Linked DNA regions of Homo sapiens. The protein of the gene in region 2 interacts with the protein of the main gene of each other region in a pairwise test. Each region holds a gene or a part of one and is shown on either strand. Other genes may lie near its edges. The genes, in order: RNF220, UBE2E2 and TRIM45.

Region 1 (3,652 bases), on a different chromosome or scaffold from region 2:
TTAATCTACTGGATGGCTTGGCCTTCCAAAGCTCATTTGTTCAGAGAATATCGTATTTGGAGGTTTTATGATATTTTTTTCTTTGCTGGGCTCAGGCGCATTTCACCCAGAACGTGTAGGGACCAAAGTCAGCTACGCGTACATCACAGTAAGTTGTCTATTGATTTTCCTGAATGAAAATGGTCTGATGCTGCTGCCCACTGGCTCCTAAAGCCTGTGGTGTCTCTTGCCCGAGCATCTGTGAGCCAGAAGGATGGTGTTTCGATCACTTGGGGTTTCCCTTTTTTTCCTCCCCCTGACTTTCCTCCCCCTTCTTTTTTTCTCTTTGCTGTTTCTACAGGTCTTAGGAGGGAATGATTCCCCAGTAATATTCCCTGCCCTGACCCAAAGTGCTGGTTGGCCTCCCTCCCAGGGAAGACTGCTTCTTGCGTAACGCCGGCCACAGAAAGAGACTCCGATGGACTTACACCGGGCAGCCTTCAAGATGGAGAACTCATCCTACCTTCCCAACCCTCTGGCATCCCCAGCACTGATGGTCCTGGCATCCACGGCTGAGGCCAGCCGTGATGCTTCCATCCCTTGTCAGCAGCCACGACCCTTTGGTGTACCTGTCTCAGTTGACAAGGACGTGCATATTCCTTTCACCAACGGTTCCTATACCTTTGCCTCTATGTACCATCGGCAAGGTGGGGTGCCAGGCACTTTTGCCAATCGTGATTTCCCCCCTTCTCTACTACACCTCCACCCTCAATTTGCTCCCCCAAATCTAGATTGCACCCCAATCAGTATGCTGAATCATAGTGGTGTGGGGGCTTTCCGGCCCTTTGCCTCCACCGAGGACCGGGAGAGCTATCAGTCAGCCTTTACGCCGGCCAAGCGACTTAAGAACTGCCATGACACAGAGTCTCCCCACTTGCGCTTCTCAGATGCAGATGGCAAGGAATATGACTTTGGGACACAGCTGCCATCTAGCTCCCCCGGTTCACTAAAGGTTGATGACACTGGGAAGAAGATTTTTGCTGTCTCTGGCCTCATTTCTGATCGGGAAGCCTCATCTAGCCCAGAGGATCGGAATGACAGATGTAAGTACTTTGGTTCCAGCCCTCCCTTACCCCCAGTAAGCCCTGCCTCACCGTGATGTTCAACAGGTCGGTGGCGTTTTGCATGCTCCTAGTAATAGGAAGGGCCAACTACTTCCCTTTCACTAGCTGTGGAGTGCTAACCTTTGCTTGTCTCTTATCAGTGAGCACTGATAGTTCTTGAAATATTTTTCTGAAAGTAGCCAGAGGCAAGTTGGCCCCAGCACAGCCTTTCTCTCCGGACCCTAGTGGGCTTATTCTCTGAGGACTTGAGTGAAGAGGGGTGCCACCGACGTACTGAAGTGAATGTCATTTCATTAAGAAGTGTCGGCTCCTAGGGAATTTGGGGGGCCTAAAGAAACATGTCCACCCCTCCTCTCTTTGCTGTCCTCGTTATGTTTGTCTGATCTCAGTGTTATTTTTTAGCTTTTCCATTGTATCACATCCAGCAGACTCCACGTGATTCTATTTTCACAACTCTCAGCCCTTGTCCACATCAGGCTATTTTTCAGAGAAGGACAAAGGTGTCGTCAATCACCATAAAGCATTTCACACAGCTGTGTTTTCCTTGCGATCGCAAGGCTAGAAAGCCGACTTCTCTTGGGATTTCACAGGTTTGCTGGATGCTTATCCTGGGGCTCACTTTTAGGACTAGACACGGTTGACCTGTGTGACTGCTCCAAATTTGATGTTCACAACTATTATTAATTTCTGCTTATGAAACAGCTTTTTTTCATGTTCTCCAAGTGCCTTGTTGGGCTCTGGCTACACTTATAGCTGGAACTAAACCTTTATTTGGAACTTGTAGACTAGGAGTGCTGAACCCTGCAATCTTTTGCTCTAATATAATCAGAAAATAATTGTGTTTTGAAGCTTTTGGGCTGTGGGTAGACAGAGCAGTTTTCTTCAAGCCTGGTGAGAATTTATGAACTGAGGGTGTTTTTTCCACGCAACCCTTTGTTCTCAGATTTGCTTCATTTTATTTTCTTAAGAAAACTACATCTGAGGTTTGCCTTCCACTTTTCTCTATTTTTTCGTGCTCCCATCCTCTCTATAACCACCAACACGAATACCATTTTTTTCCCTCCTCTTTATGATGCCGAGGAGAGTAATAGAGACATTGCAGCTCTCTCCCCTGTCGCCACTGCTTCGTCAGGCTGTCTCCTTGAATTAGGCACTGTGTTAACTTCCCTGCGCTAAAAGGCATCTGCCTAAACCCAGCGTACCTTTTCAATAAAAGTCATCATAAAATCAACCTGCCTTGTAAATCCATCGCTCTTTGGTTTTGAAATATGTTGCAAGTGTGTCTTTTATGTCAGCCTCTGTAAGCCGGAGACCTCCCCACTTAAGGGAGAAGGCTGCTGGCTGACAGCACTACTGCTAGTGTTGCCCTCTCACTTTGGCTTTGGTTCTCTTTCACCTTTTCAGTTTCTGTTGACTTGTGTGTCTTGTGATCCTGCTTCTTGGATATACCTGCTGAACAGGTATCGGCATTGTGTTGGTTCATTTGATTTTATTTTAGTTTTCATTTGTCCAGTGATGTGCAAGTGATCAAGGCTAGTTATAATGTGACCTCCAGCCAAAACTGCCTTGTGTTAGGGTGTGACAGATTCCGCCCCTTTTTTTCTCCAAATACAAGTTGAAAATGAAATCTTCTCTTAGCTAATATGCCACAAAGTAACATCTGGAGATTGAGATCTCTTTCTTCTTACCTAACAGATCCAGCTTGTCTCCATTTTTCTATCTTTTTAGCCCAAACCTGTATCCGACTCCAGAGCAGGAGGAAGCTTGTTAGTCAAGTCAGAACTCATAGACGTGGATATCCATTCCCCTCTGAGTGTCAAAGCCATAACTCTTCTGTTTGCCTGGTTTGCATTGTGTGGTGGTGGCATCCCCCATGGAGATGGATCCCTCACACAGGAGTACGCCTGGGTGGAGAAAAATTAAATGAGTCTGTCTCCCAAAGTGAAATGGAATTCTGACCTTGAAATTAATGAGATTCTGATCAGAAGGGTGGGGAAACTTCTTTATTTCCAATGCGGTGTTATACAAATTGGAGTCCCTTTCCTCTTTTATTCATTTAAAATAGTCTTCCCTTATAGAGTACCCTGTGTTCTCCTTTTTTTTTCTTGTACACAAGCATAAAACCTATAGGAGTGTCTGTGAGGGGAGGGTGTTCGTACACCCTCGTTATTATCCAGAGTTGCATTTGTGACTAATCTTTAATAAAAAACAAAGGTGCAAAGTGAAAAGGAGGCTGTGCTACCCTGTGGTCACCCTGGAGTTGTGCTTTTTACTCCCTTCCTTACCTTAGGTGGTTAGCACATCCCTCACTGGGTCATACTAGATAGCGTTTGTGCTTTTGATTGCGAATTTTTGGAAGGCAGGAGAAGTATTTTTCTGTAAGGAAGGGTTGAAGAGGCACTAAGACAAAGTCTGCAGCAGCTTTCTTGGCTCCTGTCATATGCCGACGTGTGTCGGAATATTTATGGTCTGTTTTATGTAAATACATATTTAAGGGTCGTTAGAAGGCCTGATTATTCCCACTAGATGCCTTTCAGGTCCTCCCTACA
Region 2 (3,652 bases):
CAGGGAGAAGCCAGTTTCCTACATTCACTTATATCACAATTAGTAGACTACTTAGTATGTGGGTTTGTTCGAAACGTTTGCCTCTCTGCCTACTCTTTGTGATTCTTCTTCATTTTCTCAGATGTTGAAATGAAAACTCTACCATTTCACCCAGTCCAGTCAAGATTCAACAAGATTTAAACCAGCACTACCAAATACAGACACAAAATATCTGGCAATTGGCCAGGATACTTTTTTAAAAATGTAGCCTTTCACTTGAGCTTAAGTAATGACATTAGAGTAATAGGGGCCAAAGTGAAATCTGAGTCACATTTCTCTACCTTCAAAAAAAGTAATCTTGTTCTGATTCCTGGCATTCTAGAATGCAAAGAGTAGGGTGAAACGTGGGCATCCTTAATAGTTTAAGTCTGTATCACTCAAGATAGGTGTTTAATTAAATAGAACTTATATTAGTGAAACACATTGAAGATCCATTCTAACTTACTGATGAAGGTAAGGCTCAATGTCAGAAGAATAACACTGACTTATATGTTCCACCTCAAACTGTACCCACATCCAGAGTGTACACACTGGGAATAAGACAGGTCTGCCACTTCAGCTCAAAGGGGGTGGAGGGAAACAAATGAAGAATAAAGGGAACAAGAAGCTGTGGGGTGGGAAAATGTGTCATATCAACTGTTAATAGTATTTCAGTACAGGCAAAAGGAGAAACAATTAAAAACAAGTTAGAGTGCTGGTAACAATTAGCGTGCGTTGTGCAAACTTTTTTTTGCATGCTTAACATTTAATTGCTTTCAAGGTTCTTTTACGTTTTCAAATTTGATTAAAAAATTTTTTTTCCACCTGTAAAATTATACACACTAACTATAAAACAGTAATTAATAATAATTTAGAAAACCACCTCAGACAATATGCAAGACAGGAAGTTGAAAGTAAAGACCATCTCGTGTATAAATCCACGCAAAGAAAACTGCTGTTAACATCGTGGTATGTTTTCTTCCTACACTTCTAATCACATGATGTAAAAAAAAAAAAAGGGATTAATTTATAGTCTGCTTTTGTAATCTTTTAAAAAATAACTATGATTTTTATACCGATATGGTAAATAACTTTTTACATAGATAATTGTAGATCTACTTCATCATTTCTAATACCTGAATTAAGAACGAATTTCCTGTTTTTAGATGTTTGGGTACTCTCCAACTTTTGTTTTAAAAACAACGATGTGAGGACCATTACCATGCATGCATCTTTGGAAGTTATACAAATCTTAAATTTGTTTAAAGTATAAAATGAAGGGATAAAGTAAAAATACACAATGAAGGAATTAAAAAAATCATGTTATTGGCTGGGTCAGATGGCTCACGTCTGTAATCCCAGCACTTTGGGAGTCTGAGGGTGGAGGACAGCTTGAGGCCAGGAGTTCAAGACCAGCCTGGGCAACACACTGAGACCCCCAACTCCACAAAAAAATAACAAAAATTAGCCAGGTGTGGTGGTGTGCCCCTGTAGTCCAGCCTACTTGAGAGGCTGAGGTGGGAGGATCGCTTGAGCCCAGAAGTTTAAGACTACAGTGAGCTGTGATCATGCCACCACACTCCAGCCTGGGTGACAGAGCAAGACTCTGTTTCTAAAAAAATAAAAAAGACCACTAACAATTAGTATTTGATGTTCACTTAAAATTCTATTCAACATAGTAACTATCTTCTCATATCAATTTACATGTCCCTATGATTTTCTGAATATTACCCCCAGTAGCAGTGCTGATGTTTAAGCTAATATTTCATGAAAGGAGAAAAAGGCTACAAACTACTTTTTCATATGCTGCACATAAAGATTCAGCTCAGTGGAATAATCCTGAAGAGCTAGTTGTGAAAATGGATCTCTGCTGAAAATGGTAAATTGTATATGCTTAATTAAGGGAGGACTTTTCAATGTGAAAGTCTGAAAATACTGTTTCTTAGCAGAATGTTAAACTTAATAAATGGTAAATAAAAGTCATGAATTTAGCAACACTAAAAGGTAATAAAAAAAAAAAACATGTTATCAACCAAATAATTTTTTTTTTTTGTTGAGACAGTTTCACTCTGCCATCCAAGCCAGGCTCCAAACATAAATTACTGTACCCTATTTCTCTAACAAGAAGAAAATATTTCCCATCATTTTGGGTTTCTAGATTGTTACTATTTTCCCAAATCTTTATTAATATTTGAGATTATCATCTGTCAGTTTTCCTCATTTTTACTAAAGAAAAGCCACAAAATTTATCAGTAGATAAGTAAATTGAAATCAAAGCCTCCCACATTTTCTGTTTTTGTTCAAAAATTATTTACACTTTTGAAAAGAGGAGCATGTTCAGACTTATGCAGAACAGAGTTAGATGACTTCAAGTACTTAATTCTCCCAAACACCAGTACGGCATGTATTAGAGGTTTCCTGAGGCAGAAGTATAGGATCTACAGTGTGGTTAACAGAATATCATAGAGATGGAAGTTAGGTATACAAAGCTTTCCTCTAAATCACATTTCCTCATCTGTTTAATAAAAATCATGTCTTTTTTTTTTTTTTTTTTTGAGACAGGGTCTCACTCTGTTGCCCTGGCTGGAGTGCAGTGGTGGGATCATAGCTCACTGCAGCCTTGACCCCTGGGCTCAAGCAATCCTCCTGCCTCAACTTCTTGAGTAGCTGGGACTACAGGCACACAGTAGCATGTCCAGTTTATTGATTTATTTTTTTTGGTAGAGACGGCAGATGTTGCCCAGGCTGGTCTTAAATTCCTAGCTTCAAGTGTCCTCCCACCTTGGCCTCCAAAAGTGGTGCGATTACAGGATGAGCCGCTGCTCCAAGCCAGCATCATGGCATTTTTGTTAACAAAATACCAGTCATAAAATAATAACCTGAATGAAAGCGTAAGACTGCAAGATCACTGATGAAGGGGAACATACCTTCTTCTTACTCACCTCTACTTCCTCTATCTCACCTCTGTCTCCCTACACAATTTAGAAGCAAAGAGTACATACCTGTCAACTAACAATCACTATTATTTGCAAGCGAGTGAAAGACTGTCATACCAACTGGGCACAGCGGCTCATGCCTGTAATCTCAGCACTTTGGGAGGTTGAGGCAGGAGGATGGCCTGAGCCGAGGAGTTTGAGACCAAGCCTGGGCAACACAGTGAGAACCCATCTCTACAAAAAAAAAAAAAAAAAAAAAAAAACAAAAAACAGCTGGGTGTGGTGGCATGTACCTGTGGTCCCAGCTTCTTGGGAGGCTGAGGTAGGAGGTTCACTGGAGCCCAGGGGGTCGTGATTACAGTGAGCCATGATTGCGCCACTGTACTCCAGCTGGGCGAAAGAGCGAGACCGTCTTTCCAGAAAAAAAAAAAAAGATTGTCATATTGCGTAATCTACCTCTTCGCATTTTTTGAGATCTGTGGTATGTGCACCTTTGATTCTAGAGGAAAAAGGCTCAGACAACTCCCACCTTGCCTCTTTAATGGATGGAGCTACACTGGGTACCCTGGAAGCCAAAGGGTTTATAGTCCCACCTAGAAAAGGGAGGACAGAGACAGGGAACAAGACTAAAAGGGATCGATGGATGTAGATGCAAAAATCCTCAACAAAATACTAGCAAACCAAATCCAGCAGCATAC
Region 3 (3,652 bases), on a different chromosome or scaffold from region 2:
TTTGCCCCTAGGCGGCAGAAGAAAACGACTTACCACACCATGGTGGACCTAAAAGACTTGAAAGGCTACAGCCGGATTGGGAAGCCCATCCTGTGTCCTGTTCACCCTGCAGAGGAACTGAGGCTGTTCTGTGAGTTCTGTGACCGGCCCGTGTGCCAGGATTGTGTGGTGGGGGAGCATCGGGAACACCCCTGTGACTTCACCAGCAATGTCATCCACAAGCATGGGGACTCTGTGTGGGAGCTCCTCAAAGGTACTCAGCCCCACGTGGAGGCCCTGGAGGAAGCCCTGGCTCAGATCCACATAATAAACAGTGCCCTCCAGAAGCGAGTGGAGGCAGTGGCAGCTGATGTCCGGACATTCTCGGAGGGCTACATTAAGGCCATTGAGGAGCATCGGGACAAGCTGCTGAAGCAGCTGGAAGACATACGGGCCCAGAAGGAAAATTCCCTGCAGCTGCAGAAGGCCCAGCTGGAACAGTTACTGGCAGACATGCGGACTGGAGTGGAGTTCACCGAGCACTTGCTGACCAGCGGCTCAGACTTGGAGATCCTCATCACCAAGAGGGTGGTGGTAGAACGGCTCAGGAAGCTGAACAAAGTTCAATATAGCACCCGTCCTGGAGTAAATGATAAGATACGCTTCTGTCCTCAGGAGAAAGCAGGCCAGTGCCGTGGCTATGAAATTTATGGTACGATTAATACCAAAGAGGTTGATCCAGCCAAATGTGTCCTACAAGGAGAAGGTAGGAAGGCATTTCCCATTGACATTGAGAGGGCAGTGGACAGGGAGGTGGTGTGTGAAGATTGGTGGCTTGTTCTGCTAGGAAGCATGCCCTACTGACCAGGTTACCAAAGGTGGGGAGATAAACTGATCTGAAAGACAGTGACCCCCACCTTTGCCCTTTCTGGTTTGTTCTGGCTAGGGTACAGTTAATACAGGAGTGAGGCTTGACCCTTTTCCAGTTCAGAGAAGTAATAATGGCTGAGAAACACACAGATCATGTTTTGTTTCTATCAGATGGCAGAACAGAGACAGTGCCCGTTGGAGGTAACAGCAGTGACTAGGGCCAGGTGAAATTCTGCCTGCTCAGAGAGGAGCATGGCAGGCCCTGGATTCCTAGATCAAGTTCTGAAGGGAGTTTCAGAGGAATGAGGAAGATGAGATTACGGTTTCCTTTCCTTTAGGCCCTTTTTGGTTCACATCAACTTTACTGGCATTTAAAAGGATATGGTAGGTGTTTCATTTAATTGGGGGAAAAAATGGTTTTTTTTAACGAGTGTTCCCTTTCTAATGGAAGCATATTATTAAAACATATGTTTCACAGGTCAGTAGGTCAGTCCTGATAGGAAGATTGCATCTTAATGACACAGGCATTCTTAACTGTTTGGAAGCCATAGATCTCTTTGAGAATGTTCTCTCCTACAGAAACACCCAGTAACTTGTGCATACAATTCCAGATTTTTAGACTCTTCATAAGCCTTTCCATAGACCTCATAGTAGTTCATGAACCTCAGGTTAAGAAACCCTGTTTCATCTGAATGCTGGAGTAGGGGCTGTAGCTACTGGATATCCCCCCAGTACCTTGGCATGAGCTACCAAGTTGCAGAGGATCTCAAAACATGGAGGGTCGTGAGGCTGGTCAGCTGTACTCCCTGCCTAGCCCAGCAGGATCTGGAGCTTAGGGAGGGTGGTTTTGGGGTTACTATCCTCTCTCACAGGGTCTAGAGGTTTTCTTTAAATACCTCGGTCAGTCGTGAGTATTTTTAAAGCATAGGACCTTCAGTCCTAGGACTGAAGGTAAGGTCCAGGATCCTGTGTGATCCAAAGCAGCTGCTAGCTGAGAGAACCAGGCCAACCAGGAAGGACTCCCAAGAGGCGTACTCTGGGAGGCAGAAGGGGAAGAGAAAACAAAGGGACCCAGGGTGGTTACAGTAAAGTACAACCCTTTGTTCTGAAGAGAAAAAGCAAGATGGAGATGTAGTCACTGCAGTTTACATTCGAGGTGAGGACCGAGTGTTTATCTTTTTCAGACCTCCACAGAGCCCGGGAGAAACAGACGGCCTCTTTCACCCTGCTTTGTAAGGATGCCGCAGGAGAAATCATGGGCAGGGGAGGAGACAACGTTCAAGTTGCCGTTGTCCCTAAAGATAAGAAAGACAGGTTTGTATGACACAATTAGGTGTCATGGATAACAGGCAGTGAGAAAACTGGAAACATGAGGTCCTTTAAGATATTGGAGCTGGGCACAGTGGCTCATGCCTGTAATCCCAGCACTTTGGGAAGTGGAGGCAGGAGGATCGCTTAAGCCCAAGAGTTCAAGACCAGCCTGGGCAACATAGGGACACCCTGTCTCTACAAAATTAAAAAAAAAAAAATTAGCCGGGAGTGGAGGCATATGCCTATAATCCCAGCTATTCAGGAGGCTGAGATGGGAGGATCCCTTGAGCCCAGGAGGTCGAGGTTGCAGTGAGCTGTGATTGTGCCAGTGCACTCCAGCCTGGGCAACAGAGCAAGACCCCAGGTCCAAAAAAAAAAAAAAGATATTGGAGTGTAACTCACTAGTTACGTCTTACCTCCCCATAATACTATGAAACGTTACGTGACCAAATGTGTTTTCTTGTGTGGGTTTTGTATTCAATTCTCTCTCAAAGCTATGGTCTGCCCCTCAGATTGTTTTCATCTCAAGCTTTAGAATAAGTTGAAAAATATTCTGTGTTAGACTGAATGGTACCCTTTTCAAAATTCAGTCTCCCTTTGGTACTAAATTATGCCTGGAGCATGTTTATATTTCTCTGGAATTGTAGAATGGAGGAGGGACAACAGAGCAAGAGGGTTCAACAGAAGCCTGTTGAAAAGGACACAATAATATATTCAAGGAATTTGTCTGAATATCAGACTAAATTGGAATTTATGCTGTTTACCTTCTGTTGTAAAATTAACTTCTGAAGCAAATGGAAGAAGCATCCTGTTTGGGTATATTTAACATTAATACTGAATGGGATGGTGTAGAGTTTACATTCTGAAATAGTAGCAACTGAAGCCAGCTTGTGGAAGTGAGTGGTGTTTTGACTCTTATCTCCATTCAGCCCAGTCAGAACAATGGTCCAGGATAACAAGGATGGGACATACTACATTTCCTACACCCCCAAGGAACCTGGCGTCTATACTGTGTGGGTCTGCATCAAAGAACAGCATGTGCAGGTAAGACTGGTGCACGTGCTTCCCTGAGCTCCCTGGATTCTACTGTCTTAGGATCTGGAGACATTTCACATAGGATCAGCTATACAGAGAGATTGAATAGAATCCCCATGTCTTCTTCTTCACTTTAGAAACAGCCCAGATTTTGCTACTCTTATTCTTCCTGGAGGATGCTGTTGACCATAAGAACCCTGTATCCCTGTGTCACCTCCAGGCAGTTATGCTTATAGCTTATCATTCTCCCAGTTGGTTTCTTAGGATTCTTAATATGGAGAAGATGTCTTGATCACAGGGGGTGATCTGCCAGCAGACAACCATGCATATTCAAAAAATATAATCTAGCTCAGGATTTTCCAGTTTTGTCCAGACTGTGTCTGGACATGAACACAGTTGAGAGGGTTATGCCCCCTCCTCACAATTGACTAGTCATCTATCTGCCTAACCATCTGCT

Evidence for each region.
Region 1: the proteins of UBE2E2 (region 2) and RNF220 interact in a two-hybrid assay, tested with the Homo sapiens proteins (one large-scale study listed by IntAct).
Region 3: the proteins of UBE2E2 (region 2) and TRIM45 interact in a two-hybrid assay, tested with the Homo sapiens proteins (one study listed by BioGRID).

Annotation. Positions count from the first base shown.
Region 1 is NC_000001.11:44,411,641-44,415,292, forward strand, and holds part of RNF220 (E3 ubiquitin-protein ligase RNF220), read left to right. Parts: exon of another isoform or gene 1-148; intron 149-340; 5' UTR 341-457; coding exon 458-1,082; intron 1,083-3,652. UniProt on the Homo sapiens protein: E3 ubiquitin-protein ligase that promotes the ubiquitination and proteasomal degradation of SIN3B. Independently of its E3 ligase activity, acts as a CTNNB1 stabilizer through USP7-mediated deubiquitination of CTNNB1 promoting Wnt signaling.
Region 2 is NC_000003.12:23,584,292-23,587,943, reverse strand, and holds part of UBE2E2 (ubiquitin-conjugating enzyme E2 E2), read right to left. Parts: intron 1-3,652.
Region 3 is NC_000001.11:117,115,127-117,118,778, reverse strand, and holds part of TRIM45 (E3 ubiquitin-protein ligase TRIM45), read left to right. Parts: intron 1-11; coding exon 12-745; intron 746-2,033; coding exon 2,034-2,163; intron 2,164-3,089; coding exon 3,090-3,204; intron 3,205-3,652. UniProt on the Homo sapiens protein: E3 ubiquitin-protein ligase that plays a role in the regulation of inflammatory response.